Regions from separate parts of the Homo sapiens genome. Here region 2 is linked to region 1. The links come from fine-mapping of genetic effects on gene expression. A gene starts in region 1. The other region holds a variant in brackets. All regions are shown on one strand. Distances are between the middles of the regions. Region 1 holds the start of NUBP1 (NUBP iron-sulfur cluster assembly factor 1, cytosolic). Region 2 overlaps NUBP1 (NUBP iron-sulfur cluster assembly factor 1, cytosolic).

Region 1 (15,518 bases):
GAGACCAGCCTTGCCAACACAGTGAAACCCCATCTCTACTAAAAAACAAAAATTAGCCCGGTGTGGTGGCACATGCCTGTAATCCCAGCTACTCGGGAGGCTGACACATGAGAATCACTTGAACCTGGGGGGCAGAGTTTGCAGTGAGCAGAGATTGGGCCACTGCACTCCAGCCTGGGACAGAGTGAGACTCTGTCTCAAAATAAATAAATAAATAAATAAATAAATAGGAAAAGATGTTTAACACAGTCATTAAAATAATGCAGATTAAAACTACAATAATACAGCAGTATGCATCTATTGAAATATTTAAAATCCAAGGTTGTCTGTAACCTATGCATCTATTGAAATATTTAAAATCCAAGGTTGTCTGTACCCACTGCTGGCAAGAATATGGAGCAGTTAAAAGTCTCATATCCTGCAGGTGAATATGCATAATCACTATGGAAAACAGTTTCGTAGTTTCTTTTTTTTTTTTTTTTTTTGAGACAGAGTCTCGCTCCATTGCCCAGGCTGGAGTGCAGTGGTGCGATCTCGGCTCACTGCAAGCTCAGCCTCCTGGGTTCAAGCGATTCTCCCACCTCAGCCTCCCGAGTAGCTGGGACTACAGGCCACCATGCCCGGCTCATTTTTTGTATTTTTAGTAGATATGGGGGTTTCACTGAGTTAGCCAGGATGGTCTCGATCTCCTGACCTCGTGATCCACCCGCCTTGGCCTCCAAAGTGCTGGGATTACAAGCATGAGCCACCGTGCCGGCCTCGTAGTTGCTTAAAAGTTAAATGCACATCTACCATTCCACTCCTAGGTATTTAAGCAAGAGAAATGAAGATACACGTCACTATGAAGACCTGCACAAAAATGCTCACGGCAGCTTTATTTGTAACACCCCAAAACTGGAAACAGCCAAATGTCCATTAACAGATAAACTAGTATAATCATACAATGGAATACCACATAGCAACCAGAGGAAACGAGCTTCATACACGCAACAATGTGGATGAAACGAAAATAAATATGCTGAGTGAAAGAAGCTGAATTAAAAAGCGTGCATGCTGTATGATTACATTTATATAAAATTCTAGAAAATCCAAACTAATCTACAGTGAAAGAAAACAGGTCAGTGATTGCTAAAGAACAAGAGCGGACCACAAGGAAACCTTTGGGTACATACATATGTCAAAACTTGGCAATTGTATACTTACAATATGTGCAGTTTGTTGTATATCAGGTATACCTCAACAAAGCAGCTTAAGAAATAAACCGGCCGGGAGTGGTGGCTCACGGCTGTAATCCCAGCACTTTGGGAGGCCAAGGCGGATGGATCACCTGATGTCAGGAATTCGAGACCAGCCTGGCCAACACGGCGAAACTCCGTCTCTACTAAAAATACAAAAATTAGCCGGGCGTGGTGCCAGGCACCTGTAATCCCAGCTACTCAGGAGGCTGAGGAAGGAGAATCGCTTGAACCTGGGAGGCGGAGGTTGCAGCGAGCCGAGATTGTGCCACTGCACTCCAGCCTGGGAGACAAAGCGAAACTCTGTCTCATTAAAAAAAGAAATAAACTGATAATTACTAACACCTATATAGGGCTTGAAAGTGCCAGACACTCTAAAAAACTGTTTTACTCATTAACTTGTTTAATCTTCCCAACAATAATTCCTTGAATATTATTGTTGACATTTTTCAGAGACGGAAACTGAGACAGGGAGCCTGAATGCGAACACCTGGCATTCAAGGATCCACGTCCTTTCCAGTTTCTCTCTATATAATGCATCTGAGCCTTGTTTTTCGACTCAATTATGTGTTGAACACCTGGTGTGTATATAGCCCCTTGTTATATTTGCCGGATCCCAGGGAAGAAGCAGAAAATTTTCTACACCTAAACTTAATTTTGTTTCCATTGCCTGAGTACCTTGATCATAGGTGGGGGGAGAGCTCCACCTGCTGGTATAACTAAGGAACCGCAGGCACTTCCTGTGTTTTCTAAGGGTGCTCGCTGACCTTGTTTGAATATTTAAAGTGCCCCTGTCTGGCTGAAATTTTTAGCCGCTGTAACCAGGTTTTAGTCTTGTTTCATCCACTAATCTTTTTTTTTTTTTTGGTAAGGCAGATTCTCGCTGTGTTGCCCAGGCTGGAGGGCAGTGGTGAGATCGCCTGCCAGGCTCAAGCGATTTTCCTGCCTTGCAGCCTTCCGAGTAGCTGGAACTACAGGCGCACACCACCACATCCGGCTAATTTTTATATTTTTAGTAGATACAGGGTTTCACCATGTTTGCCAGGCCGGTCTCAAACTCATGACCTCAGGTGATCCACCCACCTCGGCCTCCCAAAGCGCTGAGATTACAGGCATGAGGCACCACGCCTGCCCAGTTTCCCCCATTTTTAACATCTTGCATTAGTGTGGTACATTTGTCACAGTTGATGAACCAATATTGACACATTATTATTAAATAAAGCCCATGGTTTATATTAGGCCTCACTCTTGGTGTCGTACGTTCTATGGGATTTGACGAATGCATAATGACATGCATCCACCATTACATAGTCACACAGAGCAGCTTCCCTGCCCTAAAAGTTCCCTGGGCTCCCGTTTACCCCTTATCCCCTCCCACCCGCTGAACTCCTAGCAACCCTGATCTTCGGACTCTATAGTTTTACTAATTTATTTTTAAAATTATTTTGAAGTCTATTTAAATCCTTGGCACTTACTTAGCTTTGTAAATTTAACTTTCATTTTTAGTCATTATTCACCATCTTCAGTCAGAGGAACTGAAATAAAAAAATTTAAATTTAAATTTAAAATCTAGTCTTTCAAAATCACAGAACTAAGTAAGTGTAAAGGAAAATTACACAAAATTTCAAATGCTAATTTTTGTTAAGTTTATGGCATTCATACTTCGGAAGTTGTTAGAATGGAAAACCGTGCTCAGACTTCTGGAACGCAGTGTGTTCAGTTCCGCAGGCCAGGAATGGCCTCCATGGGGAGATGCTGCTGAGACTTGGCCTGTCACAGAGGACTGGGCCACAGCCAGATAGGCGAGAGACAGGCAGTGGCCTTTCCTGGCAGAAGGGCCTGTGTGAGTGACAGCAATGAACTAGGGTGCCAGGCAAAGGCCAGCTGTTTAGTGAATAGACTCGATATTCTCAGTGACACTCAGGCTGGAAGGGTCAAAATGAGTCATGCAGGCTACTGAACACCATATGAAAACTGGGCCTTATCCTGTGGGCCATAGGGAGCCACTGACGGTTTATGAGCAGCAGAGTGACTTGGTCTGATTTTCATGGGGAAAGAATGTTAAGACTGAGAAACAATTCAGGGAACTGTGGGAAACATCACTGTGATCCTGGATATCTGGTTTTCCTCCACTTCCAGTCATATAAAACTGTACTTCCTATACTTTTTTAGGCATGACCATGTGACTTTTTTTTTTTTTTGCGACAGAGTTTTGCTCTTGTTGCCCAGGCTGGAGTGCAGTGGTGTGATTTCGGGTCACTGCAACCTCTGCCTCCCAGGTTCAAGCAATTCTCTTGCCTCAGCCTCCCAAGTAGCTGGGATTACAGGCATGCGCCTCTGTACCTGGCTAATTTTTGGTATTTTTAGTAGAGACGGAGTTTCACACTATTAGTCATGCTGGTCTTGAACTCCTGACCTCTAGTGATCCAACCGCCTCGGCCTCCCAAAGTGCTGGGTTACAGGCATGAGTCATCACGCCCAACCTTTTTTTTTTTTTTCTGAGACAGAGTCTCATTCTGTCACTCAGGCTGGAGTGCAGTGGCACAATCTTGGCTCACTGCAACCTCTGCCTCCCGGGTTCATGCAATTCTCCTGCCTCAGCCTCCTGAGTAGCTGGGATTATAGGCGCACACCACCACACCCAGCTAATTTTTTGTGTATTTTTAGTAGAGACAGGGTTTCGCTATGTTGGCCAGACTGGTCTTGAACACCTGACCTGGTGATCCACCCGCCTCGGCCTCCCAAAGTGCTGGGATTACAGGCGTGAGCCATCGCGCCTGGCCTTTTTTTTTTTTTTTTTTTTTTTTTTAGACAAGGTGTCACTCTGCTGCCCAGGCTGGAGGGCAGTACTGTGATAACAGCTCATTGCAGCCTCCAACTCCAGCAATCGTCCTGCCTCGGCCTCCCAAGTAGCTGGGACTACAGGCATGCACCACCTTGCCCAGTTAATTTTTAAATTTTTTGTAGAGACAGGGTCTCACTATGCTGTTCTCCAACTCCTGGCCTCAAGCAATCCTCCTGCCTTGGCCTCCTAAAATGCTGGGATTACAGGTGTGAGCCACTGCACCTGACGTGTGTGACTAATTGTAGCCAATGAAAAGTGGGCAGATAGGTGTCATTTCTAGTGGAAGCATTTCAGAATCAGGGTACAATTCCCCTGGCTTGTGTCCTCTGTGTTCAAAAGGGGCCACAGGAGACGGTGGAGCTTCAGTCTGTGTCCCTGAGGAACCACAGGGAGCAGGAACCTCTGTCCATGAAGTTACATATGGAGCAAATGCCAAAATAAACTTGATTGCCTTGAGCCACTTCAGTTTGGGGATGTCTGTTTTGGCAGCGCAGACTAGCCTATCCTGGCTGAAACAGACACTGTTGCAGGACCAGGAGGAGGAGGGGGCCTGAGCTGAGGCAGGAGGGATGCTGGAAGGCATGGAGTGTCAGTTGTCTATAGCTACCCCAAACTCAACAGTGTCAAACCACCAGCATTTAGCTAGTTCACCAGCCTGTGCATTGGCCAGGTGGTTCTTCAGGACTCACGCATCTATGGCCAGTTGTGGGTCTGGATGGGTGGATCTGTGGGTCTGGATGTGTGGATCGGTGGGTCTGGATGGGTGGATCTGTGTGTCTGGATGTGTGGATCGGTGGGTCTGGATGGGTGGATCTGTGGGTCTGGATGGGTGGATCAGTGGGTCTGGATGGGTGGATCTGTGGGTCTGGGTGGGTGGATCTGTGGGTCTGGATGGGTGGATCTGTGGGTCTGGGTGGGTGGATCTGCAGCTCTTGGCTGGACTCTTCTCATGTGTCTTGGGCCGCTGGTTTAGGAGGCCTTCACTGAGAGCACAGGGGTGGCTCAGCTCAGTTCCAGGTGTTTCACCTCCCATGGGCGAGCCCAGACCTTCTCCTAGCCTGTGTACCTTTAAGTGGCAGGGGAGCTGGAGAGGGATTAAAACAGGCAAAAGCCCCATTACAAGCTTTTTCTTGAATCACATTTGCTAAAGTAAGTCACATGCCTGAGCACAGAGTCAAGGGGTAGGATGGAACCCCCTCCCCGCACGTGGGAGGGCACTGCAAAGTTCAGCAGCCAAGGGCACAGATCCAGACAGGGAGAGAAGTGGGGTCATGTGTGCTACCAGCCTACCACCTAGGGGTGCAGCTGCTGACCTGATGTCTGATTGGATGCAGGGGGTGCTGTGGGCGTCTCTATGGACAACACTGACCCCCATCCCTGTATAGGTACGCCACCCCACTAATCAACAAGAGGAGTCTGTGTCTGTGACACTTTGACCGAGAGAACATGGTGAAAGTGACTGCCACTTCCCAGCTTTGTCATTCCCAGCTGCCATTTAAAGGGACACAGGCTAGACCACTGAAAAATGAGAGAGGGAGGCCACGAGGGGGGAATCAAGGCCAGTGTGAGAGTGAAGCCATTTGAGACCTTCCAGCCAACTCCCAGCTGAATGAAGCCACATTAAGGGAGCCCAGGTGAAACCAGAAGAGTCACAGGAAGCAATAAACCATGGTGGGTTTAAACCACTACATATTGGGGTGACTTGTCACACAGCACTTGATCACTGATGGAGATGGAGAAAACTAAACAAGGCTGATACTCAGATTTACGGCTTGAGTTCTTAGCCCAGGGGTCATGCCCTGTCCAGGTATAACAAATCCAGAGGCAGGAACCGCCTTGAGAAGAAGTTGTAGACGTTTATTTGTTACGCTTGTGGGATGTCCATGCAATAAAATCCAATAGGCACAAGGTAGGATCCACAGATCCGAACTCACGGAGCAAGAGGTGTGGGAGCTGGAGACAGAAGATGGATAGCATCAGGGCTGTCAGTTGCTTGCCCAGGAGGAAGTGGGAAGTGGGACTGGAAGTGGCCCAAGAACAGAGTCTTGGGGAGCACTCACCTTAAGAAGCGGCCCTGGCCAGGCGCGGTGGCTCACACCTGTAATCCTAGCACTTTGGTAGGCTGAGGCGGGTGGATCACCTGAGGTCAGGAGTTCGAGACCAGCCAGGCCTACATGGTAAAACCCCGTCTCTACCAAAAATACAAAAAATTAGCCAGGCGTGGTGGTGGGCACCTGTAGTCCCAGCTACTCAGGAGGCTGACACAGGAGAATTGCTTGAACCCGGGAGGTGGAGGTTGCAGTAAGCCAAGATCACACCACTGCACTCCAGCATGAGCAACAGAGTGAGATTCCATCCCACAAAAATAAAAATAAAAAGGAGAATAACTTGCATCCTGCCCTCTAATATACAGTATAGTGATTAATAGCAAAGGCCCTGTATCAGACTTGGTTAAAAACCCAGTTCTGCTCTTTCTGCCTCTCAGACTGTGGACAAGTAAATCTTTGCAGCCATCTTATCACCTGTAAAACGGAAATGACAACAGTCCCTACCTGATAGGTGACTTCCTCTCTGCTCTCCAGGCCTTTGCTGATGCCCCATCACTCTGGTCCTCTTCTCCCGACCAGACTGTGCTCCAGATGGCAGGGTCCAGGTTAGTCTGGAATCATTGGCATCTAGCCCAGTGCTGGCTGGGACCATGTGTTACTAAGTGCAGGCTCTGCAGCCAGACAGACCAAGTTTATCACCCTGGTTCCCCTGCTACCAGTCATGCGACCTCGGGAAAGTAGTTTACTTTAAGCCTCAGTTTCCTTATCCAAAAATGGAGACAGTAGGACTATGAAAGGACATAAATTAGGTAATTCACATGAAAGCACAAAGATGACAGCTGCCAAACGGTAAGTATTCTACAAAATGCTGGCTATAATTAGTGGTAGTGACAGGCAGCTGATACACTGCTGTTTAATAAATGTTTCCGAGGCCGGGTGCGGTGGCTCATGCCTGTAATCCCAACACTTTGGGAGGCCAAGGCGGGCAGATCACGAGGTCAGGAGATCGAGACCATTCTGGCTAACATGGTGAAACCCTGTCTCTACTAAAAATACAAAAAATTAGCCGGGCGTGGTGGCCTGTAGTCTCAGCTACTCGGGTGGCTGAGGCAGGAGAATGACGTGAACCCAGAAGGCGGAGCTTGCAGTGAGCCGAGATCCCACCACTGCACTCCAGCCTGGGTGACAGAGCGAGAATCCGCCTCAAAAATAAATAAATAAATAAACGTTTCCATATTCTTAGTGTCTGGGGCTAGGTAAAGTTTGTTCACTCATTAATATTCCAGGTGCCAAACCTGTGAGCAATGACACTCCAGTAGCAATGAGCATTTGTGGCATCCACATCTTGGTTTCTGAACTGTTGTCTGCTAAAAAGTAACCAAGGCTCCCTGAAGAAATGACTGCAGCAGGGAGAAGGGATGACTGAAACATCTTGTATCAGAAAGCAAGAAAATGCTCAAAGAAGCTGGATTAGTGCCCAAAGAACATAAGAACTGTCTTGAAGGGGCTTCACTGGCCACATCTGGGGGAAAAAAAATCGACCAGAAAGAATAATAATTGATTATAAAAGACAATTTTAAAAAATCCAGGAATCCATAGTGAGTCTTCGAAAAAAAAGAAAAAAAGAGAGGGTATAAAACTGATATATATTTATCATATATATAATCTATAGTTTTATATATATATATATAAATGCTGCTAAAATCACTGAGTGAAAGGCTGATAGAGAAGAAGATGGTCCCAGAGAGTACCTGTTAATTACAAATGGAAGAAGGAAACATTAAATGGAGAAATGGGGCAGACACCACCTTTAGCAAGCGATCAAGCTTCACATTACCAAAAACGGGACAAACTGACATTATCCAAGTGTGTTCTGCAGGAAAAAAGAAAAATTAACCTTTATCTAATTACAAGGCAAGAGGGAGGGGAGGATTAGACAAATCAAGAATATGGGATATTCTATTACACAACTGGTCTGGACCCGTCAAAATTATCAAGGTGATGAGACCCCCCCTAAAAAAAGAAGGACTGATCTGAATTAAAGGAGACCGAAGAGAAATAACTCCAGGCAGTGAGTGAATCCAGCAGGGGAGGGGGTCTAACAACTGAAATTGAAATATAAACTGTCTATTGGCTAATACTGCATTGGCTAGTACTGCATCGATATTAAATCTCTTGGGTATGAAAATGGCACTGATGTCATGAAGAATGGCTTTGTTCTTAGGAGATGCACTGCAGAAGTATTTATGATAGGAAATCTCTGAAAAGGAACAGACGTTGAGTCCCAGTCTTTCGGCCCAAGGTTCGCGCGTGCGCACAGCCCCCTTTCCGAGACTTATTTCGCGCGGTCGGAGAATCAGATTGTGCCCACAAGGCGGAAATGTACGACAGCGGGTTCCGGTGACCACGAAGGCGGCAAAGGCGACGGAATGGAGGAGGTGCCTCACGGTAAGCTCGCGGAGGGGGCGTGGGTCGCGGGGCGAAAGTGTCGGGAGCTGCTCTAACTGTGGTCTTGTCTCTGCGCAGACTGTCCAGGGGCCGACAGCGCCCAGGCGGGCAGAGGGGCTTCATGTCAGGGATGCCCCAACCAGCGGCTGTGCGCTTCTGGAGCGGGGGCCACTCCGGACACGGGTGAGAAAAGGGCAAGGCCTCAACAGGAACTTAGAGGCGCAGGCCCGGAAAAGGCGGGGCGTGGGAGGGAGGGGGCGGGATCTGCAGAATGACTGACAGCGGCAGGCTAGAAGGTATTGTATTCGGAGAGGGGTGGGGCCCAGAAGGGGCGGGGCGTGGAAAGTGGGCAGGGTGAGGGCGGAGCTTGGAATGACTGACAGGAACGAGGCCTTTAGAAGGCGAGCGCGAAGGACCTGGCGCGGATGGAGGGTGGAGACTGACCGGCGCGGAGTCGAAAGGGACATTAATTAAGAGGGTCGGGGCCAGAGGTTTGAGTGACAATAACAGACCGCAGAGAAAAACGGGATAAGCTTCGAAGTCGGGGAGTCTTCGGACTTACATCCTGGCTCTGCCAGCTACTTTCTTGACACAATTTTCTTCCTTTTGAGGAGTGATTCTCCCACTCATTCAGCAGAAATGTGTTGATCGCCTCGTAGGTTTGGTGCTGTCCTGGGGACACAGCTGGGGATCAGGCGTGGTCACTGCTCTAGTGGAGTTTAGCTTTACTGGGGAAACAAACACGTGAGCTAGCAACTAAACCACCGCAGCTTTAAGTGCTGTGAAGCACAGATTCCAGGATGAGAGGACCCAGGGAGCCTGCTCAGAAGGACCTTAAAAAGCAGGAGGCAGGAGGACAATATTTTTTTTTCTTTTTTTTCCCCCTTTTTTTTTAGACAGAGTCTTGCTGTGTAGCCCAGACCAGAGTGCAGTGGTGTGATCTCGGCTCACTGCAACTTTCACCTCTCAGGTTCAAGCGATTCTCGTGCCTCAGTCTCCCGAGTACCTGGGACTACAGGCGCCTGCCACCACGGCTGGCTAATTTTTATATTTTTAGTAGAACCAGAGTTTCACCATGTTGACCAGGTTGGTCTCGAACTCCTGACCTCAAGTGATGCATCTGCCTGGGCCTCCCAAAGTGCTGGGATTACAGGCATGAGCCACTGCACCTGGCCAAGGGGGAGAATCTTGAAGGAGTTCAGAGAGAGACTTGGATTTGATTCTTGGATCCATGCGGTGTGACCTTCAGCAATAGTCCTAACCTCTCTGAGCTTCTGGTTCCTCATCAAAAATGGAGACAGGCCGGGTGCAGTGGCTCACGCCTGTAATCCCAGCACTTTGGGAGGCCGAGGCGGGTGGATGGATCACTTGAGGTCAGGAGTTCGAGACCAGCCTGGCCAACATGGTGAAACCTGTCTCTACTAAAAATACAAAAATTAGCCAGCATGGTGGTGCATGCCCGCCCTCGAGGCTGAGGTGGGAGGATCACTTGAACCCGGGAGGTGGAGGTTGCAGTGAGCTGAGATCGTGCCACTGCACTCCAGCCTGGGTGACAGAGTGAGACCCTGTCTCAAAGAAAAAAAAAAATGAAGAGAAAAATAGTTATCTCTGTCAATGCAATGGAGAGACTGAACTGAGCCTCAGTGGAGGTTTATTGGGCCAGAGCTTGAGGGCGTGCCCTGGAAAATACAAGTGACAGAAACATCTGTGGCCTGTGCTCGATGGAGTGGTTCCAGAAGGCTGGTGTTTATATATTTCATTAAAAGGGGAAAAAGCATGCAGGAAAAAGTGCAGTAGGCCTCGTGGCAGGTAGTTACATTCTTGTGAGGTTTTAATTCGTGCCCAGTATATCTACACTATTCAGAAAATAAAGTAAACATTCAAAAGAGGGAATAAAGGAAGAATTAATTAGGCAGACGTCTCAGGGTAGGAGAGGAAGGACTATCTCATCCCATCTTTGTTTGGCATGTGGGAGGATAAGCTTGTAATGGACATGGTCAGTGTGGCGTTTAACAGACATCAGTAATAGGGAAGGAGTTAGACTGAGGTTACAGTCCTAAAGTTACAGTTGGCATGTCCTTGTTTATGGGAGGATACTCATCTTCAAAGATTTAGGGGCCAGCAAAGGAGTTCCTTAGGAGCAACTTGTGAGGGCAGTCATCCCACAATGGATTGCATGGGGCCTTTGGCCTTTTGCAGGTGTCTGGTTAATGTAGAATGCTTTGACACAAGGTTGGGAAGTAACAGCTGTCTGTTGATGGGGAGGAGGACAGCAGTGTTGGGAGGTTTCCAGGCTTAACTTTCACTTGAGTTTGGCCAGTCATGAGACTTTTTAATTTCCTTTATACCTCGTGTATTGTTTTAAGGATTTGAAATAAGATAGTTTCATTGGCAGATACTTAGTATGTGCCTGCTGTCTATCAGAGTTTCTCAACCTCAGCACTGCTGACATTTGGGGCAGGATCACTCTTTGTTGTGGGGGGCTGTCCTGTGCATTGTAGGACATTTAGCACAATCTGGGCTGTACCCATTAAATGCCAGCAGTACCTCTCCTGTGACAATGAAAAGTGTCTCCAGGCTGAGCATGGTGGCTCACACCTGTAATTCCAACACTTTGGGAGGCCAAGGTGGGTGGATCACTTGAGGTTGGAAGTTCGAGACTAGCCTGGCCAACATAGAGAAACACCGTCTCTATTAAAAATACAAAAATTAGCCAGGCATGGTGGCAGGCACCTGTAATCCCAGCTACTTGGGAGGCTAAGGCAGGAGAATCGCTTGAACCCAGGAGGCAGTGTTGCAGTGAGCCGAGATCACGCCACTGCACTCCATCCTGGGCGACAGAGCAACACTCTGTCTCAAAAAAAAAAGAAAGAAAGAACAGTGTCTCCAGACATTACCAAATGTCTCTGGGGGATTTTGTCCCCAAGTTGGTGACCATTGCTGTTTGCAAAGTTCTCTTCTGGAGCTGGGAATACAGCACTGAAAGCTTCAGACAGTTCCTACCTTTGTGGAGACTATGTTCTAGTTGGGGGAGACAAACGTGTAAACCAATAAATGAGACCCCTTCAAGTGTGATAATAGCCTTATTTTCTTCCTAGCACTTATTTCTACCATTGTCTGAGAGGTATTTCAGAGGATCGTTTTAAACAGCCCCAGGACTAGTACTAGGACTAGGACTTAGCTCTTTCTAGTTGACTGGAAGCGTGACATTCGAGGTTTGGTGTGGGACCTCATCCCCTGAACTTTGGTTTTCTTTGCAGCTATAGAGGAAATCAAAGAGAAAATGAAGACTGTAAAACACAAAATCTTGGTATTGTCTGGGAAAGGCGGTGTTGGGAAAAGCACATTCAGCGCCCACCTTGCCCATGGCCTAGCAGAGGATGAAAACACACAGGTGAGACCTCAGGAACCACTGGGAGATGCTCATTTTGTCTGAGGGTCGTGATGGCTACTAAATAACTGATTCCTAGGCCAGGCGCAGTGGTTCATGCCTGTAATCCCAGCACTTTGGGAGGCCAAGGCGGGCAGATCACTTGAGGCCAGGAGTTTGAGATCAGCCTGGCCAACATGGCAAAACCTTGTCTCTACTAAAAATACAAAATATTAGCTGGGCGTGGTAGCGCAGGCTTGTAATCCCAGCTTTTCGCGAGGATGAGCCATGAGAATCGCTTGAGCCCAGGAGGCAGAGGTTGCAGTGAGTCAAGATTGTACCAGTGTACTCCAGCCTGGGTGGCAGAATGAGACTGTCCAAGAAGAAAAAAAAATGATTCCTTATACTAAGTTGAATTGGCCTCTTTGGAATCTCAATCCGGCAGAGAGCAAAGAAATGCCCAGTAGTCAAATGAAGCATTTCACTGGATTCCCTAGCCAAGAAAATGGCTAGCAGATGTACATCTGTCCTTGCATGTGGATAGTTTATTACATTACGTTCACGCTTCTTTTTCCTCTTTATTAACCCCTTTTAGCTTTTCTCTAAGCCAGGGACCTGCAAACTATAGCCAGTGGGCCAAATCCAGCCCATCTCCTGCCTTATGGCCTTTGAACTAAGAATGTTCACATTTTTGAAATGTTTTTTGTTTGTTTGAGACAGGATCTCACTCTGTCACCCAGGCTGAAGTGCATTGCTATGATCAGGACTCATTGCAACCTCTACTTCCTGGGCTCATCAAGCTATCCTCCCACCTCAGCCTCTCAAGTACCTGGGACTACAGGTGCTTGCCACCATGCCCGGCTAATTTTTGGGTTTTTTGTAGAGATGAGGTTTTGCCATGTTGCCCAGGCTAGTCTTGAACTTCTGAACTCAAGGCGTCCCCCTGCCTCGGCCTCCCAAAGTGCTGAGATTATAGGCATGAGCCACCGTGCCTGGCCTAAAATTGCAATTTTTAAATTAGTACCTAAGTACCTACATATGATCCTTGATTTTGCCCACAAAGCCTAATAATATATTTGCTGTTGGCCCTTGTGGAAAATTTTTGCTGGCCCTTACACGAGTTTATTCATTTCCACCCATGCATACAGACGAGCATGAAAACTCAGATTACCCACTGCTGCCCTCTGGATCTCAACTTTAATAAAAGGGGTTGGTGGGTCGCTAAGAGCACACACTCTGGAGTCAGACAGCCCAAACTCAGGTCCCAGCTCCATCTACACCACTGCTGTGACCTTGGGCAAGTTACCAGGCTTACTCTGCCTCCGTTTTCTCATCTATAAAATGGGACTCCAAGGACTGAGTGAGATGGCACAGTAAAGCACTTAGCACGGGGCCCGACGAATAGTCAATGCTCAGTAAAGGTCTGTGATGGCCACCATTTTTATTACTTTATTTCACTCTCTGGATATGAAGGGATGATGATTACATCTGCCTTAGAGATGAGTTTGTAGCCTACCCAAGGTATAGTACTGGGCAGATTCAAAATACACTTGTTGGGCAGGGCATGGTGGCTTACACTGTAATCACAGCACTTTGGGAGGCTGAGGCAGGCGGATCACTTGAGGTCAGGAGTTTGAGACCAGCCTGGCCAACATGGTGAAACCCTGTCTCCACTAAAAAATACAAAAATTAGCTGGGCATGGTGGTACGTGCCTGTAGTCTTAGCTACTCGGGAGGCCGAGGCATGAGAATCGTTTGAACCCAGGAGGCGGAGGTCGCGGTGGGCCAAGATTGCCCTACTGCACTCCAGCCTGGGTGACAGACAAGACTCCATTTAAAAAAAAAAAAGGATATAGATAGATACACAGACACATACACACACACACACACACACACACACACACACACACACACACACGTTGATTCGTCATTCTGTGAGTCAGCGATCTCTTGCCATTTGAGGGTCAAATCTGTACTGGCCTAGTGGGCTGGCCAAGAAATCTGCTTTCTCAGATTGTCTGTATCGTTTAGAAGAATCTTTGCTTTTCGAAGCTGTCAGGAATATTCCTAAACAGCTCACTGGAGATGGGCTTTCATCTCACCACTTGCAAGTAACCACTTGTGAGTAGACAACTGTTTACATCCTTCACTTTCATGTAATTACGTTCTGAAGTCTTTGCTGCATGCCTGTCTAGACTTTGCAGTATACAGAAGGAAAGCACACCATTCAGTGTGGAAATATGGCTAGATCAGCTGTATTTTTTTATGCAGTGGTGGTTTAAAAAAAAAAGAAGTCAGCATTTAGGAAAGTGTGTTTTCCCCAGGCAGACCTACTCATGACAGTGACATCACTATCTGCAAAGTGTCAACACATGGAAAATGCTGAATATGTCTTGATTAAAGTCAAGCAGCACAGATTTCTCCCTGCCCTAAATCCAGCAGGGTGGTGGGACATGCCCTGACCTTTTTCTGCCTGCCATCTGGTGGAAGCTTGGCTCTAACTCTGTGCAAGACCATTCCATGTTAGCGCTTGAGGCAGGCAGGCGCCTGTCATCTCATTGGCACAAAGGGCCTTGGATCAAGAGAGAGCAGAATTAGAAAACACCCCTGACGAGTCACAGGCTGCCCAGGGAGTGTGTAAGTTGTGGTGAAGGCAGAAGGAGCCTCTGTAGCATAAGCCTGAGCCATGAGACAGCCAAGAGTCATACACTGTCTTCCACTGCAAAAGTCACCGACTCCCAGCCTGGGCTTCAAAGTGAGACCCCTGTCTCTACAAAACATAAAACATAAAAAAAGTTAGCCAGGTGTGGTGGTAAGCACCTGTAGTCCCAGCTACTCAGGAGACTGAGGTAGGAGGATCACTTGAGCCTGGGAAGTCAAGGCTGCAGTGAGCCGTGATTATGCCACTGCACTCCAGCCTGGGCAACAGAGTGAGACTCTACCTCAAAAACAATGAATAAATAACAAGTCACCAACTTCCATAAATTAAACTTTTTTTGTTTGTTTTTTTGAGACGGAGTCTCATTCTTTTGCCCAGGCTGGAGTGCAGTGGTGTGATCTCAGCTCACTGCAACCTCCACCTCCCGGGCTCAAGCAGTTCTGCCTCAGCCTCTGGAGTACCTGGGATTACAGGCGTGTGCCACCACACCCAGCTAATTTTTGTATTTTTAGTAGAGACAGGGTTTCACTATGTTTGCCAGGCTAGTCTCGAACTCCTGACCTCAGGTGATCCGCCTGCCTCAACCTCCCAAAGTTCTGAAATTATAGGCGTAAGCCACCACACCCAGCCACCATAAATTAAACATTTATGATCTTTGTGATCTGAAAGGCAAACTGTCATAACAAGGTCAGCACTAGGTGTTTCAGGACTGAGTGTGCGAGGCCCTCCTCTGGGTCCTGGGACTGCAGAGCTGAGAGGGGCCTTGATGACCCCGGAGCAGTTGTCTCACAGATCAGAAGCCCAGACAGCCAAGGCTTCGAAAGCAGAAGCAACTTGTGCAAGGACTAAAAGTTAGGACTAAATCCCTCTTCCCCTACCCTCCTCATCAGGGGCAGTTTGGGGTGCTGAGTAA
Region 2 (15,518 bases), 27 kb after region 1:
GGCAGAGTGCCCCTGGATCCGCTCATAGGTGGGTGACCCCAGTGTGGGGCGGCACCTCACTCCTCGGTCAGCCCCACAGGCACGGGTCGGGCACAACAGGGGGCGGCTACAGAGAGGGGCAATGGAAGGAGGAGGGTCAATGGGGCGCTGGAGCCAGACCCACCCTCCAGCTGGCACCCCAAGAGGCCACCGGGAGAGAGGCCGAGACCCCTGCGGGCAGGTAGCGGGAGCAAGCAGGCCTCAGGCAGAGGGGTGAGGCCTGGAAGAATGGGGTAGAGGTTGGTGAGGGTGGTGGTGGCAGGGGACTGAGGAGGGCACCCGATAGAGGGGCGGCTCCAGGGGATGCACATGGCGTCCAGGTTACAGAGGAAGGCGGCCTGAGGTGAAAATCCCTTAGGAAGGGGCCGGGCCTCCTGTGCCCGGAGAAGCCAGCACGGCACAGATGAGGCCCCTTTGTCTCCAGCACCGGGACAGACCGGAACGCGGATCACTGGCCTGCGAGCAGGGGCCAAGTTCCCAAAAAATGCTCTTCTTAAGTACGTGGGTCTCCCAGGATCCCAAGAGATGCCCACTCCCTGAGTGGCCCTGAGGCTGAAGGAGGGACGGGGTTTCACGTCTCCACCCACACGCCCGCCGGGCGCCCACTCGCCGCGGGGCGCTGGGCAGGGCCTACACTCGAAGCTGCTCCCCCAGGAGGCTGCTGTCCCCCAGGACCGCGGAGCCGGGCGGGCCTCCGTTACTGGGGCCCTTTAGTGGGGCTCCTGCGGGGCGTCCAGCACTCGCCTTTAGGTCTGAGGGGAGAACAGAGAGAGAAGGCTGGAGGGGAGGCCGGGATCCAGGAGTGCCGGCTGCACCCATGCCTCGGAACTTCCACTCCATTTGTCAGGGAACCAAGGCCAGTGTGAGGTGTCTGTGCCGGGACAGGAGAGAGGGGCCGGGCGGGTGAAGTATGGCCTGGCCAGGAGAGGGTGGGGGCCGCGTGCTTGGGGAGAGGGCGGGGCCCGTGGAGAGCCTGGAGGCGGGGAGGGCGGAGGCCACGTGGGGAGCCTTGGGGAAGGGCTGCATGGGGAGAATGGGAGCCTGTGGGAAACGACTGTCAGTGTCATGTGCCTGGGAACAGGAGGCTCAGGAGTGGCTGCCCTGGGATAGGGGTTCAGGATGAGGCCCTGGGTTCTGGCGTTGGTGTAGAAAGGAAGGGACACACACAAGAGAGAAAGTGACGGCATCTGAGGGTCAAGGTTGTCCCTGCTGCCAGTACAAGTCACCTGGAGGAGGGTCCGTCCCTCAGAGACAGTGAAGCAGGGGTGGTAGAGGGAGGCCGGGCCCTCTGGGGTGCTGCGGCTAAGGGGCTCGGGGGCTCAGGTTGTCAGCAGGTTCTGGGGTCCGTCAGGAGAAGGTGGTTCATGTCCGTGCAGTTGAGTTTTGAAGCCACAGGACATGGACAGGATTGCCAAGGGGCCGTGCAGAAAGCGGGAGCCAGGAGGACAGTGTTGGGGGATGGCTGCCTCGAGGAAGTGGTAGGGGGGTAGGGTGCGAGGGCCACTCTGAAGATGGGAACAGCCCGGGAGAACGCCAGAGACCCCATGTGCCCAGGAGGCTGTGTCCCCAAATCCTTTTTCCCTTATTCCCACATCCCACAATACTTCTCTGGCATGTGATTTCCCCAACAACATGCAGAAAAGTACAGCTGCTTTCTCAACCTTCCCCAGCATCATAAAACACTCACCAGGCAGCTTTTGCAGTGGCCGGAAGTGGTGATGAGAGCTGCCCTCTGAGGCCCCTGGAGGCAGTTGGGCTGCATGAATGGATGTGATTGGGGACAGGAGCTTGCAGCAGCCCAGGGCACATCCATTCCTGCCAGCCTGCACCTCTGCCACAGTTCAGCTCTGCCGAGATGGGATTGGTGGGCAGGACGTTTGTCAGGGGAAACATCTGTGGGAGAAAATGACAAGGGAGAGCGTTAGCCCACGATGAAGGAGTGGGGGAAGGAACATATCAGCCCGAAAGAGCATCACGGCCCATAGGAGTATCTCAGCCCCTGGAAGCATCTCAGCCCAAGGGAGCATCCCAGCCCTCAAGAGCATCTCAGCCCATGGGAGCATCCCAGCCCAAGGGAGTATCTCAGCCCACAGGAGTATCTCAGGCCACGGGAGCATCCCAACTCAAAGGAGCATCTCAGCCCACAGGAGTACCTCAGCCCATGGGAGCATCCCAGCCCAAAGGAGCATCTCAGCCCACTGGAGCATCCCAGCCCAAGGGAGTATCTCAGCCCACAGGAGTATCTCAGCCCACGGGAGCATCCCAACTCAAAGGAGCATCTCAGCCCACAGGAGTATCTCAGCCCACGGGAGCATCCCAGCCCGAAGGAGCGTCTCAGCCCACTGGAGCATCTCAGCCCATGGGAGCATCTTAGCCTGCTGGAGCACCTCAGTGTACTTTGCTTTTTGGCATCTCAGTCTGCTGGAGTATTTGTCTATTGGAGCATCTCAGTCTGCTGGAGTGTGGCAGTCTATTGGAGCATCTCAGTCTGCTGGAGTATGCCAGTCTGTTGGAGCATCTCAGTCTGCTGGAGTATTTGTCTATTGGAGAATCTCAGTCTGCTGGAGTATGCCAGTGTGTTGGAGCATCTCAGTCTGCTGGAGTATGTCAGTCTATTGGAGCATCTCAGTCTGCTGGAGTATTTGTCTATTGGAGCATCTCATTCTGCTGGAGTATTTGTCTATTGGAGCATCTCAGTCTGCTGGAGTATGTCAGTCTATTGGAGCATCTCAGTCTGCTGGAGTATGTCAGTCTATTGGAGCATCTCAGTCTGCTGGAGTATGTCAGTCTATTGGAGCATCTCAGTCTGCTGGAGTAGGTCTATTGGAGCATCTCAGTCTGCTGGAGTATGTCAGTCTGTTGGAGCATCTCAGTCTGCTGGAGTATGTCAGTCTGTTGGAGCATCTCAGTCTGCTGGAGTATGTCAGTCTGTTGGAGCATCTCAGTCTGCTGGAGTATGTCAGTCTGTTGGAGCATCTGTCTGCTGGAGTATGTCAGTCTGTTGGAGCATCTCAGTCTGCTGGAGTATGTCAGTCTGTTGGAGCATCTGTCTGCTGGAGTGTCTTGGCTGCTGTCGAGGAAAGCTGGGCACAGCCACCAGGGCATTCCTGAGCCCACTTACCCATCAGAGGGGCTGCATCTCCCAGAAGCGTGCCTGCCCGAGTGCCATGCTCGTCTCAGTCACTAGCTAGGAGCAGCCTGGGAGTGGCATTGCCTCAACACAAACGTGGTGGTGGATTTTGGAGCATGGCAGCTGCTGCCAGAGATCCAAGAGGTGTGTCCTTATGGCCATCACAATTGCCACATTTTCCAAGGTTTAATGAAGAGCTAGAAATCTATATCCTTACCCAAAGTCTCCTGATACTAAATGATAGCAACTAACTCCATTAAATACACACACACACACACACACAACCATGCTCTAGCCTGGGTAACACAGGAAGATACCTCATCTCTTAAAAAAAAAAAAAAAAAAAAAAGGAAAAAATTCACCCAGTGTGGTGGCATGTGCCTGTGGTCCCAGCTACTCAGGAGGCTGAGTTAGCAGGATCACTTGAGCCCAGGGAGGTTGAGGTTGCAGTGAGCCATGATCACACCACTGCACTCCAGCCTGGGCGACAGAGCAAGAACCTGTCTCAAAAAAAAATTTAAAAATGGCATGCTTGCTGACCCACCCAAATATGTCCACGGGCCCAGCCACAGGCCTGCCCTTGCCATTGTCTGACAGATCAGGAAGTGACCTTGGGGCTATTAGATCCTGATACGGCTTTTCTTCCAAAGAGCCAGCAACCTCCATCTTCCCACCTCCCTCACACCAAGCCCTGGCATTGGCCCTGGTCTTTCCTTTCAGGGCCACTTTTCACAAAGAAACAAAGTTCCAGGTGGTTCACAAGAGCTAATTTCAAAGCAGAGGAGCCACCAGTGACAGCTGCGAGGCTCATTCTGAGCTGAGAACATTAAGTGCCTTCTAGTGGGCATGGTCCTGTGTGTCAAATGGCACATTGCAGAAGCTCACCTTGAGGGGAAGCCACAGATAGCAAGGCCAGGGAGTGCCAGAAAGGAAGGGGTGGTTAACACTGTCACCCACCCAAGAGGGTGGAGCATGAGGGCCAAGTGACAGACACGCATCTGGCAAGGTCACTGGGGACAGAGTGGGGGAAAACCCACCTTCCTAGGAACAGACAGGAAGGCATGAGGACAGCACTTCAGTCTCCTCTGGGGACATGGTGGCAAAGAGTTACAGATGCCAGCGCTCTGGTGCTATGGGTCCTGGTCCCGGTGTGCTGAGGATCACAGGAAGGGCTGGCCTCAGAGCCCTGCTCCGCCACCACTAGCTGTGGGACTTGGGCTAGTCATTTCCGCTCTCAGCCTCGATGGCCCCGTGTGTAAAATGCAGGTGACAGTGGTGCCTAGTGAGAGGGATCTGCCAGGGTGGGGTGAGAGGATGCCTGGGATCTCTTGGAACAGGGCTGTGCTCACACCAGCTGTTCTGATAATGCTGCCCGTTCTTGGAGAGGTGGGAGCCCAGGGGGAAATGCAGTTAGGAAGGGAAAACACTAGAGCATATATGTGTGTTGGGGGCTGGGGAGCCCTCTGGGGAAGGGAGACCTGGGTGAAAGTCAGGGACAGAAAGTAGCCCCAGCATGACTATTCTGGGATCCCCAACCTCCCAGGTCTGGCCCAGCGAACGTGCACTCAGGGGCCTCCCTAGCGAGTTCCACATGGTCTCATGGGCCCAGCGTTAACGGCGGAGGATGTCCAGGTTCTTGGTGTCTGGAACAAAAAATTGGACAAAACGCACAAAGAAAGGAAGGAAGGAAGGGATTTATTGAAAATGAAAGTCAACTCCACGGTGTGGGAGGAGAACGGGCCTGAGAATAGGGGCTCAAAGGCCCCATTACAGAGTTTTTGTGTTTAAATACCCTCTACTTGAGGTACGCCCTATATAAACGAAAAGGATGAAGTAAAGTTACAAAGTCATTTACGGCATACGTCCTATGGAGAGGACATTTCCTGTTATGGCTCAAGTGCGAATTGGCCTTATGTTCCCTGCCTCTGGACCCTATTTTCCTGACTCACTGGGCCATATGGGCTCCCCATCTCCCACCAACCCCTCCCCACAGGCTTCTTCCCCGACTTGGACTTCCCTGTCCCACAGGGCGACACAGTAGTGAAGTTGAGGAAATGATGAGTGCTAGGTAGGAACCCCTCCTGGGGTTCACCTGAGGCTGGTGACCGGCCATGGGCAGTGCAGTCACTTGCCTGTTTCGCCAGCAGCTCAGGCCTGGGGAGTGGGCAGAGCAAGCTGATGGCAGGTCCACCCACGACTGGGGGCTGGCAGGGCAGACTGGAGGCGAGAACACCCCCATTGACCCCTAGCCCCTTGTGTCCTGTCCACCTGGCTCTGGGATAACATGGTCCTAGAGAAACCTGGGTGTGCATAGGAGGGGACTGGAACAATGGCCACATGGCGGGGAAAGACTAGCAGACTGATAGACACCAGCACAGATGACCTGGAAGATAAAATTATACACAGACAAAGCAGCAGGCAGAATGTGTGTGTCATGTGCTCCCATTCGTATTTTAGGTATATGAGAGTGTGTGTATGTGTGTGCGCACACATGCAAGTGTGCACATTTATATGCGCATAATCTTTCTGGAAAGACACCTAGAACACTAGTAGCCCTTTTCGGACTTGGCCTTTTATGCCATATCCTTTTGCATTCTGTACTTTTTTTAACCATGTGCATTCATGATCCTTTCACTCAAAAGCTAATCTCTTAAAATGCAGACTCCTGGGCCCATGTGGAAGCTGCTGAATCAGTTCTCTGTAGGGCCCTGGAACCTGCATTTTCTGTACACCACCTGATTATTTAGCCACGCTGAAATGCTGGCTGGGGACCCTGCTGGAAGGAAGGTCCCTGAGACCCCACTGGTCTTTTCTACTTTGTTCTTCATTACGAGTGAAGCGGGCTCAAGATCTTCCCATTGTCACCAGCACGGAAAGAGCCCCAAGATCTTGTGGCCATTCTGTTTTCCTCTTGGACTGAATTGTCTTCCGTTTGTTTCTTTTTTAAGGTAAGAATTGTGACAAAGGCCAGTCTTTTTTCATTGACGCCCCAGATTCCCCAGCCACGTTAGCCTACAGAAGTATAATTCAGAGTAAGTATTTCCATGAGTACTAAATGCAGATGCCTGTGGGGCAGGAAGCAACATAAAGGAGCCAGGGGTGTGGAAGGACAGGTGGGTGGTGGGGTCTGTGATGACCACAGAGTGGCCCCCATAGCCGAGGAAGCCAGGAGTCCATGAGAAATCTCTCAATGTGTGAGTATTGTGAATTAATTCATAGTTTAAAAAACATGGTGAGGGTGAAATTTATGGCTTAGGAAATACATCCCAATAAAGGGATAAAGTAATTCATTTTTAAAAGTAACTGATAAAAAAAAAAAAGGCCAGGTGCAGTGGCTCACACCTGGAATCCCAGCACTTTGGGTGAAGGAGGCAGGCAGATCACTTGAGGCTGGTCAGGAGTTCAAGACCAGCCTGGCTAACATGGAGAAACACTGTCTCTACTAAAAATATGAAAATTAGCCGGGTGTGGTGGCGCATGCCTGTAGTCCCAGCTACTCAGGAGGCTGAGGCAGGAGAATCGCTTGAACCTGGGAGGCGGAGGCTGCAGTAAGGCGAGATCGCGCCACTGCACTCCAGCCTGGGCAACAGCGTGAGACCGTGTCTCAAAAAAATAAAAAATAAAAATAAAAACTTTGTTGAGCCAGACCAAACCCACGTGCAGGCCACATTCAGCCAGTGGCAGCCATCAGAGGCCCCAGAGTTAGGGCAGAGGTGTCAGTGTTTGTTAAAGCTGTGGTCTCTGAGTTTGTGGCTGGGTTTTACTTGCCTAGAAGAATGATGTCAAGGGTAAGGAAACAGCATTCCCAGAATCCTCCATCTATAGATGGTCCGAGGAAGGCCGCAGCCACTGGTTATGAGCAAGATGGGTAGTGTGAGGTATTCCGGTCACTTTCAAAGACTCAGGGCATCACAGACACAGGTCTTTTTATGGAACTAGCCAGAGGATTCCACCCCTGTCAAAACACAGCCCTCCCCAGCACAGGACAGGGCTGTCAAGGGGTAGACAAGCCATTAGCACTCTATGCCTGTCGTCTTGTTTTCCAGGAATCCAAGAGTTTTGTAATCTCCATCAGTCAAAAGAAGAGAACCTCATCAGTTCCTGAAACGAGAGAATGTTCAGGACCAAGCAGTTACCGAGCGAGGCACTCACTGGGCAGCACATCCAGCCAGACCCGACCAGCTCCGGGATGGGGTGGGTCACAGCAAAAGGACCAGATGCTGGTGTGGTCCGAAGCCACTTTCTCAGAGACACTTTAATCATTGAGTATTTGTACACTTTTCTTTAGAACATATATAAAGGGCATTCTCTACAAATGTGCCGTTTTAAGAATAAAACCCCCTCAAATCTCTCCCCCGAGGCCTGTTTCACGTAAAAAACAAATGGGTTGTGGGATCGTGGGATTCTGCTGTGTCGGAAGCTTAGTCGATTGTAGAAACTCCCGTTTAAGCCATTTCTGCCTGTGAAGATAAGAAAGCCTAGAAAAGAACCAAAGGGGTGAGTGTGCGGCTTCACTGCAGAACACACAGGCTTGTTTTCAAACACCACAGTCCAAA[C/T]GCTTTTCTTCAGATTGAGGAAAAATCTAAAAGCAACAGAGCTCAGGCTGGGCTTCGTTCTAAAATCACTGCATATGACACAGCTGGGTCAAATCAAAAAGCCCTTGAAGAGTCCTTGAATCACCCAGTAAGACAGAATGTGGGGTCTGTGTAAATTCCCTGTGTAGTAATATGTGCACAGTATATCCAGTAATGTCCAGTGTCATGCAAACCAACTTTCAGGTTTTTTAATTATATAAAAAAGAGGGACAGATGTAAACTCTACGATCATCCTCTTTGCCATGAGGTGCTTGCTCTGTTTGAGACACACAGGATCTGAGACCACGTGGGAGAAGAGTAAATTCCTGTTTTCCCTCCACTCTGGGGCATAAAAGTGGGTGGGTGGGAAACAAGAACAAATCCCCTTGTTCTTTCCCTCCCTTGTCTCTTCCCTCCCCGCCCTTCCCTAGGACCATACATATGATCAGATTTGCACATGTTCAGTGTGAGGAAGGTGTGACCTCGCCCCCCGACCCCCAGCTCCTCACGCCAAGAGCAATGAGGCTGCAAAGCCCAGGGCAGGCCCATTGCCCAGTCTGCTTCCTGCCTGGTCACATGCCTGGCCACCCCAGGGAACAGGGGAAGCCCACCCAGACCCCGGGCCCCTGTGCCCCAAGAGCTGCATTTTTCAGAATTCCCCAGTTCCTCCACACGGGTGCCATGATCCATTTCTCACCTAATGCTGGTGAATCTCCAGCCCCTCGAGGCCAGGCTTCTGAAAGTCACCTGGGCAGGCCTGCAAGGGGAAAAGTCAACCATGGTTTTCTGTCCTTACACGCGAGTGGGGCGATCCTGCTGATGGAAGGCCAGAGAAAACCCACAAAGTACAGAAAACCTGCGGAATTGGTTGCTTGATGTCTTGGCATAAAGCAGTGCTGTTCAAATTTAGGACGGTTCTACCCATTTCAGGATGAACCTGGTCAAATTTCAAAGACTTCTGTCTCTCACTTTTAGAAATATCTATTAAGTTAAAAAAAAAAAACAAAACAAAAACAAGCTGGGCACGGTAGCTCCCGCCTGTAATCCTAGCACTTTGGGAGGCCAAGGCTGGTAGATCACTTGAGGCAAGGAGTTCGAGACCAGCCTGGTCAACATGGAGAGACCCCGTCTACTATAAATACAAAAATTAGCCAGGCATGGTGTTATGCACCTGTAATCCCAGCTACTTGGGAGGCTGAGGCAGGAGAATCACTTGAACCCGGAGCCGGAGGTTGCAGTGAGCCAACACATGCCATTGCACTCCAGCCTGGGAGCAGAGTGAGACTCCCATCTCAAAAAAAAAAAAAAAAAAAAAAAAAAAATTGAAAAACCGTTTGTGACTCTTTCCTTAATTCTATACTTTTAAAAATCACTGAAAACTAACAATGGCAGTCACAAAAGGACAAAAACTATAATTGCACTTATAGGAGGTCCCTAGGGCTGTCAAACCAATAGATACAGAAAGCAGAATGCTGGTTGCTAGGGCTAGGAGGCGAGGAGGAGGGGGAGTTAGTGTTTTGTGGGTACTGAGCTTAAGTTTTGCAAGATGAAAGCAGTTCTGGAGCTGGGTGGGGTGAAGGTTGCACAATAAAGTGGTTATACTTAATGCCACAGAACTATACATTTTAAAATGGTTACAATGGTACATTTTATGTAAATCTTACAATTAAAAAACAAAACTGCCAGGCACAGTGGCTCACTCATGGCTGTAATCCCAGCACTTTGGGAGGCCAAGGCAGGCGGGCTGCTTGAGCTCAGGAGTTCTAGAGCAGCCTGGGCAACATGGCAAAACTTCGTCTCTACAAAAAAAAAAGGCCAGGCATGGTGGTACACACCTGTAGTCCCAACTGTGCCAGAGGCTGAGGTGGGAGGATCGCTTGAGCCCAAGAGATGGAGGTTGCAATAGGCCGCGATCACACCATTGCACTCTAGCCTGGGTGACAGAGCGAGATCCTGTCTCCCAAAAAATATATAAACAATAAAACATTGGCAGCCTGGCGGATATGTTACATTACAAACCGCAGTTGCCAGCAGGCCACCTTGACTTTGACTACCTGGAGAGGAGTGGTCCAAGAGTCAGACCTCAGTTACTCACCGTCTGGAACACTGTCTGGGACAGGAAACTGGCTGTGACCTTGCCAATGTCACTGTTGCCTCCCATCTTACAAAGGATGTAGCCATACAGGTTTGCAGCTTGGAGAGAGATCCCAGCAACCACCAGAGCCTGCACTCAGACAAAGAAAGCAAAGGTCACTTTTTTTTGAGACAGAGTTTCGCTCTGTCGCCCAGGCTGGGGTGCAGAGGCACGATCTCAGCTCACTGCAAGTTCCGCCTCCCGGGTTCACACCATTCTCCTGCCTCAGCCTCCCGAGTAGCTGGGACTACAGGCGTCCGCCACCAGGCCTGGCTAATTTTTTTGTATTTTTAGTAGAGACACTGTTTCACCATGTTAGCCAGGATGGTCTCCATCTGACGCAAAGGTCACTTTCTAAGAGCATTTACAGAAATGCACCTCTCAAGCCACGTAGAAATGCTCTAGCCTGCACCTAAGAATAGTAACAGCCAACATTTACTGAGCATTTGCAAATACCCACGGACACCTCAGAATCATTACAACTGGAGAGGTTGCCACCATCATCATCCCATTTTACAAAGAGGAAACTGAGGCTCAGGAAGACGAAAGCTGCCCAAGGTCACAGAGCTGGAGCGTGGTCGAGCCGGGATCCAAATTCCAGGGCCCGCACTTTCATTAAATGACACTGTTGTTTTACTATCTACAAATATTTTGTTTTCTCTATTTATTGATTTTTTTTAAGACGGAGCCTCACTCTGTCACCCAGGCTGAAGTGCTGTGGCACGATCTTGGCTCACTGCAACCTCCGCCTCCTGGGTTCAAGCGATTCTCCTGCCTCAGCCTCCCAAGTAGCTGAGATTACAGGCGTGTGCCACTACGCCCAGCTAATTTTGGTATCTATAGTACAGACAGGGTTTTGCCATGTTGGCCAGGCTGGTCTCAAACTCCTGACCTCAGGTGATTCACCTGCCACAGCCTCCCAAAGTGCTGGGATTACAGATGTGAGGTACTGTGCCAGCCTGTGTGAGTCCATTTATATGAAATGCCCAGAATAGGCAAATCCACAGAAACAGAAAAATTAATAGGTGCCAGGGCTTGGAGGAACAGAAGCACAGGGAAGCAATGTCAAAAGGGCGCAAGGCTTCTTCCGGTGATGAAAATTTCCTAACATTGATGGTGGTTTTGGCTGTACAACTCTGTGACTGCACTAGAAGCCACTGAATTCCACACTTAGTATTTATTTTATTTTTTGGAGACAAGGTCTCACTCTAGCACCCAGGCTGGAGTGCAGTGGCACAATCTTGGCTCACTGCAACCTTTGCTTCCCGGGCTCAAGCGTGCACACCATCATGCCTGGCTAATTTTTGCATTTTTTGCAGAGATGGGGTTTTGCTATGTTGCCCAGGCTGGTCTCGAACTCCTGAGCTCAAGCAATCCTTCCACCTTGGCCTCCCAAAGGCCTGGGATTATAGGCGTAAGCCACCATGCCAAGCCCCTAATTGTATACTTTAAATGGGTAAATTGTATGGAATGTGTATTATATCTCAATAAACTTGTTATAATTGATCAATCAATCAATAACAAATAACAACAAAAGCCTAGTGGTGCAAACACTTTTTTTGCAGAGACATCAAAGCAATGTGGAAGTCAAGATCTGGCCTTACCAGCCACTTTAGCTTCAAGGAAAATAAGGTGCTAAAAAAAAACACAATCCATATCATGGGGCAGATTATGAGGCCCAGCCAGAAGATTCGTGCTTCAGCTTCTGTGGCAGCAATGCTATTCGGAGAGACCTGTTAAAGGAAAGTAATTCAAATGTCAAAACAAGTGGAAATGGTTGCAAACGAGCGTGCTCACATTTTCATTTATTTTATTTTGCAGATGCTTTTGTTGCTGTGGGATTTTTTGTTGTTGGTGTTGTTTTGTTTTGTTTTGTTTTTGAGACAAAGTCTCATTGTGTCACCCAGGCTGGAGTGCAGTGGCGTGATCTTGGCTCACTGGAACCTCCGCCTCCTGGGTTCAAGTGATTCTCCTGCCTCAGCCTCCCGAGTAGCTGGGAATACAGGTGCCTGCCACCACGCCCAGCTAATTTTTGTATTTTTAGTAGAGACAGGGTTTCACCATGTTGCCCAGGCTAGTCTCAAACTCCTAACCTCAAGTGATCCACCCACCTCCGCCTCCCAAAGTGCTGGGATTGCAGGCGTGAGCCACCACGCCCGGTCTATTTTGGAGACACTTTTGCCACACCCATGTTTCACCAGAGCACCTTGGCAATGGTGGCTTTTGTGTAAGGCAGGAATCAGATATGCACAAAACTCCAAAGGAACCCACAGAAACTTTCCACACCCATTATCCCCGCTCTGGTTAGTTCAGCTCGTCATGGAGAATACCTTCCTGGCTTCAAAGATCCAGTGGCTCTTCCCATCTTCATCTATCTGGTTCCACCATCGAAGGCCCACCAGGAGTCTTCCGGTTACATTCTGAGAACAATAGACAAAGGACTCTGAGCAGGTCACAGGCAAAGAGGCTTATTCACTGTATTGATAAACAAAAGTTCCTTGATTCATTTCAGACTTGTACTGGGAGCAGGAAGAAAAAAGGCCTTGAATTGTAGTGGATTCTCAGATGTCAAGACTTCTAGTTTTCAACTAAGCTTACTTTAAAAAGTTACACACTCCCCCCACAAAACATATATAATTTATATGTTCATATTATATATGTTTTAAATATATGTATTAATTCGTATACAAGTGATATGGTTTGGCTGTCTCCCCACCCAAACCTCATCTTGAATTGTCGCTTCCATAATTCCCACGTGTTGTGGGGGAGACCGGGTGGGAGATAATTGAATCATACAGGCAGTTTCCCCCACACTGTTCTCATGGTAGTGAATAAGTGCCACGAGATCTGATGGTTTTTATAAGGGAAACCCCTCTCACTTGGCTCTCATTCTCTCTCTTTTTTTTTTTTTTTTTTTCCGAGACAGAGTTTGACTCTTGTCACCCAGGCTGGAGTGCAATGGCACAACCTCGGCTCACTGCAACCTCCGCCTCCCGGGTTCAAGTGATTCTTCTGCCTCAGCCTCCCAAGTAGCTGGGATTACAGGCACACACCACCGCGCCAGGCTAATTTTTGTATTTTTAGTAGAGACGGGGTTTCTCCATTCCCCTTACTTTTAAGTGACACTGCTCAGCACTCTTAAGCATGTCTCAGGAGTCTAAACCAAAGTACCTCTTGGTACCACGCACACAGGGGACAAGCCTCGTGTTTCGGAAGTGATGACATCACACGAAAGGGCCTCACCTTCACAGACCAGAAGTCCAGGGACAGGAGGAGCAGCACCATGACAAAACAGCCCACAAAGCTCTTGCTGAACCAGTCGCAGCTCACGTAGGTGACGATGGCACTCACTCGGAAAAACAGGTGGAAAAAGGTGGCCAAGGGGTGTCTAGGAAAGGACCCAGAAGGCGCCCTCACTCCAAGAGCTAAGCGGATGGTCACTGAACTCCCTTTACCACTTCAGACTTTGCTGGGGGTGTTAGCGTGGCTCAATGGAATGTTCTCCCCGGTGCATATGACGCAGAAACTCAGGCTGTAGCCCTGGGGACACATCATTAGGTCAGCAGTCCCCAGACAGTCATGCTGACACTGTTTTTTTTCCTCCCCTTCGAAGAATCCAGTACTTTCCCGCCACTTGACTCCAAATATCACTTGCCCTCTTCGAAACACGGTCATCTTTGAAGTGAAACGTGACAGCAGTCACTGCCTTCCCGCCTAGCAGAGATGACGGCCAGTTCCCTAAAGGTAAAGGTTGGGTTTTTCCACCACCAGTCACTGAGCTCCAAGCTCACACGCAGCCCACGGGGCAGGTGTCTCATGTCATCGGGGAATGCGTGTTCCTGGACAGAGGGAAACATGTGACCTGTGAATGGCAGGTCTAACTCATCATACTTGCTCAGTGGTGAATGGCACGTGAATCCTGGCATTTAATCTAGGGGAAGGTGGTTCTTGTTCACTGTGCCTTTAGACACAAACCTGGCCAGAAAGAAGAGAGGGAGCCAAGGGGAACATGCTCATCCTGTGTAAATTGCTTTTCTTTTTTTTTTTTTTTTTTTTTTGAGATGGAGTCTTGCTCTGTCCCCTAGGCTGGAGTGCAGTGGCGTGATCTCGGTTCACAGCAACCTCCACCTCCCGGGTTCAAGCAATTCTCCTGCCTCAGCCTCCCAAGTAGCTGAGATTATAGGCGCCTGCCACCACGCCCAGCTAATTTTTGTACTTTGAGTAGAAACAGGATTTCAACATGTTGGCCAGGCTGGTTTCGAACTCCTGACCTCAGGTGATCTGTCCACTTTGGCTTCCCAAAGTGCTGGGATTACAGGCATAAGCAACCACGCCTGGCCTTATTTTTTTTATTATTATTATTTTTTAATGTAAGTCTGATATAGGCCAGGCACGGTGGCTCACACCTGTAATGCCAGCACATTGGGAGGCCGAGGCGGGCGGATCACCTGAGGTCAGGAGTTCAAGACCAGCCTGGCCAACATGGTGAAACCCCATTTCTACTCAAAATACAAAAATTAGCTGGGCATGGTGGCGGCTGCCTGTAACCCCAGCTACTCGGAAGGCTGAGGCAGGAGAATCACTAGAACCTGGGAGGCGGAGGTTGCAGTGAGCCAAGATCACGCCACTGCACTGCAGCCTGGGTGAGAAAGTCAGACTCCAACTCAAAAAATAAAAAAATAAAAAAATAAAAACAAGAAAAGAAAGGTTACCAAATTGTATAGAGCAGGTGATGGCAGTGGGTGATGTGGGCCAGACTGAAGACACTTGTGGGTTTCTGTTTCTTTCTGTGGTTTCCCAGTTTAAATAGAGCACACAGGTAGAGAACGATACTCAACTATGATCAGGAAATCAATGGCACGAGCCCAGTTGTTATACCAGAAAGGGTTTCAGATCCAGACCCCAAGAGAGGGTTCTTGGATCTCACCCAAGAAAGAATTCAGGGCAAGTCCATTGAGTAAAGTGAAAGCAAGTTTATTTGGAAAGTAAAGGAATAAAGAATGGCTAGTCTATAGATAGAGCAGTCCTAAGGGCTGCTGGTTGCCCATTTTTATGGCTATTTCTTGATGATATGCTAAAGAAGGGGTGGATTATTCATGCCTCCCCTTTTTCGACCATATAGGGCAACTTCCAGACGTTGCCATGACATCTGTGAACTGTCATGGTGCTGGTGGGAGTGTAGCAGTGGGGACGACCAGAGGTCACTCTCATGGCCATCTTGGTTTTGGTGGGTTTTAGCCGGCTTTTTTACTGCAACCTGTTTTATCAGCAAGGTCTTTATGACCTGTATCCTGTGCGACCTCCTATCTCATCCTGTGACTTAGAATGCCTTAACCGTCCAGGAATGCAGCCCAGTAGGTCTCAGCCTCGTTTTACCCAGCCCCTATTCAAGATGGAGTTGCTCTGGTTCACACGCCTCTGACACAGTGATGGATGAGAATGAAACCCGCACCTCAGGGCAGGGGAGGAAAAGGGAGGGATGAAAGGGACTCTTCCCAGCACCAGGCAGCTGTGCAAACCAGACCCAGTACTGCCAGAGCCAAGATTTTCATGAGAAGTCAGAAATCCAGACTTGCAATGGGAAATCTGATTTTAAATGATGGCCACTAATTCTTTTACTGAAATATCAGTCTGTGTTTCT

The links. PIP is the estimated chance that this variant, and not a neighbour inherited with it, causes the effect. A credible set is the group of variants that fine-mapping cannot tell apart.
Region 2: its variant is the best candidate, but not a certain one, in a credible set for the expression of NUBP1 in lung (TOPMed, PIP 0.77).

What each region holds. Positions count from the first base shown.
Region 1 is chr16:10,735,307-10,750,824 of GRCh38, forward strand. It overlaps NUBP1 (NUBP iron-sulfur cluster assembly factor 1, cytosolic), which reads left to right and starts at 8,536. Exons shown (of 11, transcript NM_002484.4): 1 at 8,536-8,576; 2 at 8,655-8,759; 3 at 11,837-11,970. The coding sequence starts at 8,558. RefSeq lists enhancers at 2,402-2,451, 8,345-8,394.
Region 2 is chr16:10,761,832-10,777,349 of GRCh38, forward strand. It overlaps NUBP1 (NUBP iron-sulfur cluster assembly factor 1, cytosolic), which reads left to right. Exons shown (of 11, transcript NM_002484.4): 9 at 1-28; 10 at 6,118-6,201; 11 at 7,216-7,520. The coding sequence ends at 7,274. TVP23A (trans-golgi network vesicle protein 23 homolog A) reads right to left here. Exons shown (of 8, transcript NM_001079512.4): 3 at 13,121-13,265; 4 at 12,208-12,297; 5 at 11,482-11,610; 6 at 9,839-9,967; 7 at 8,441-8,500; 8 at 4,844-7,270. The coding sequence ends at 8,441. Among named protein-coding and RNA genes, the nearest start is that of NUBP1, 26 kb to the left of the region's middle. The variant C/T (reference allele first, on the strand shown) is at 7,726.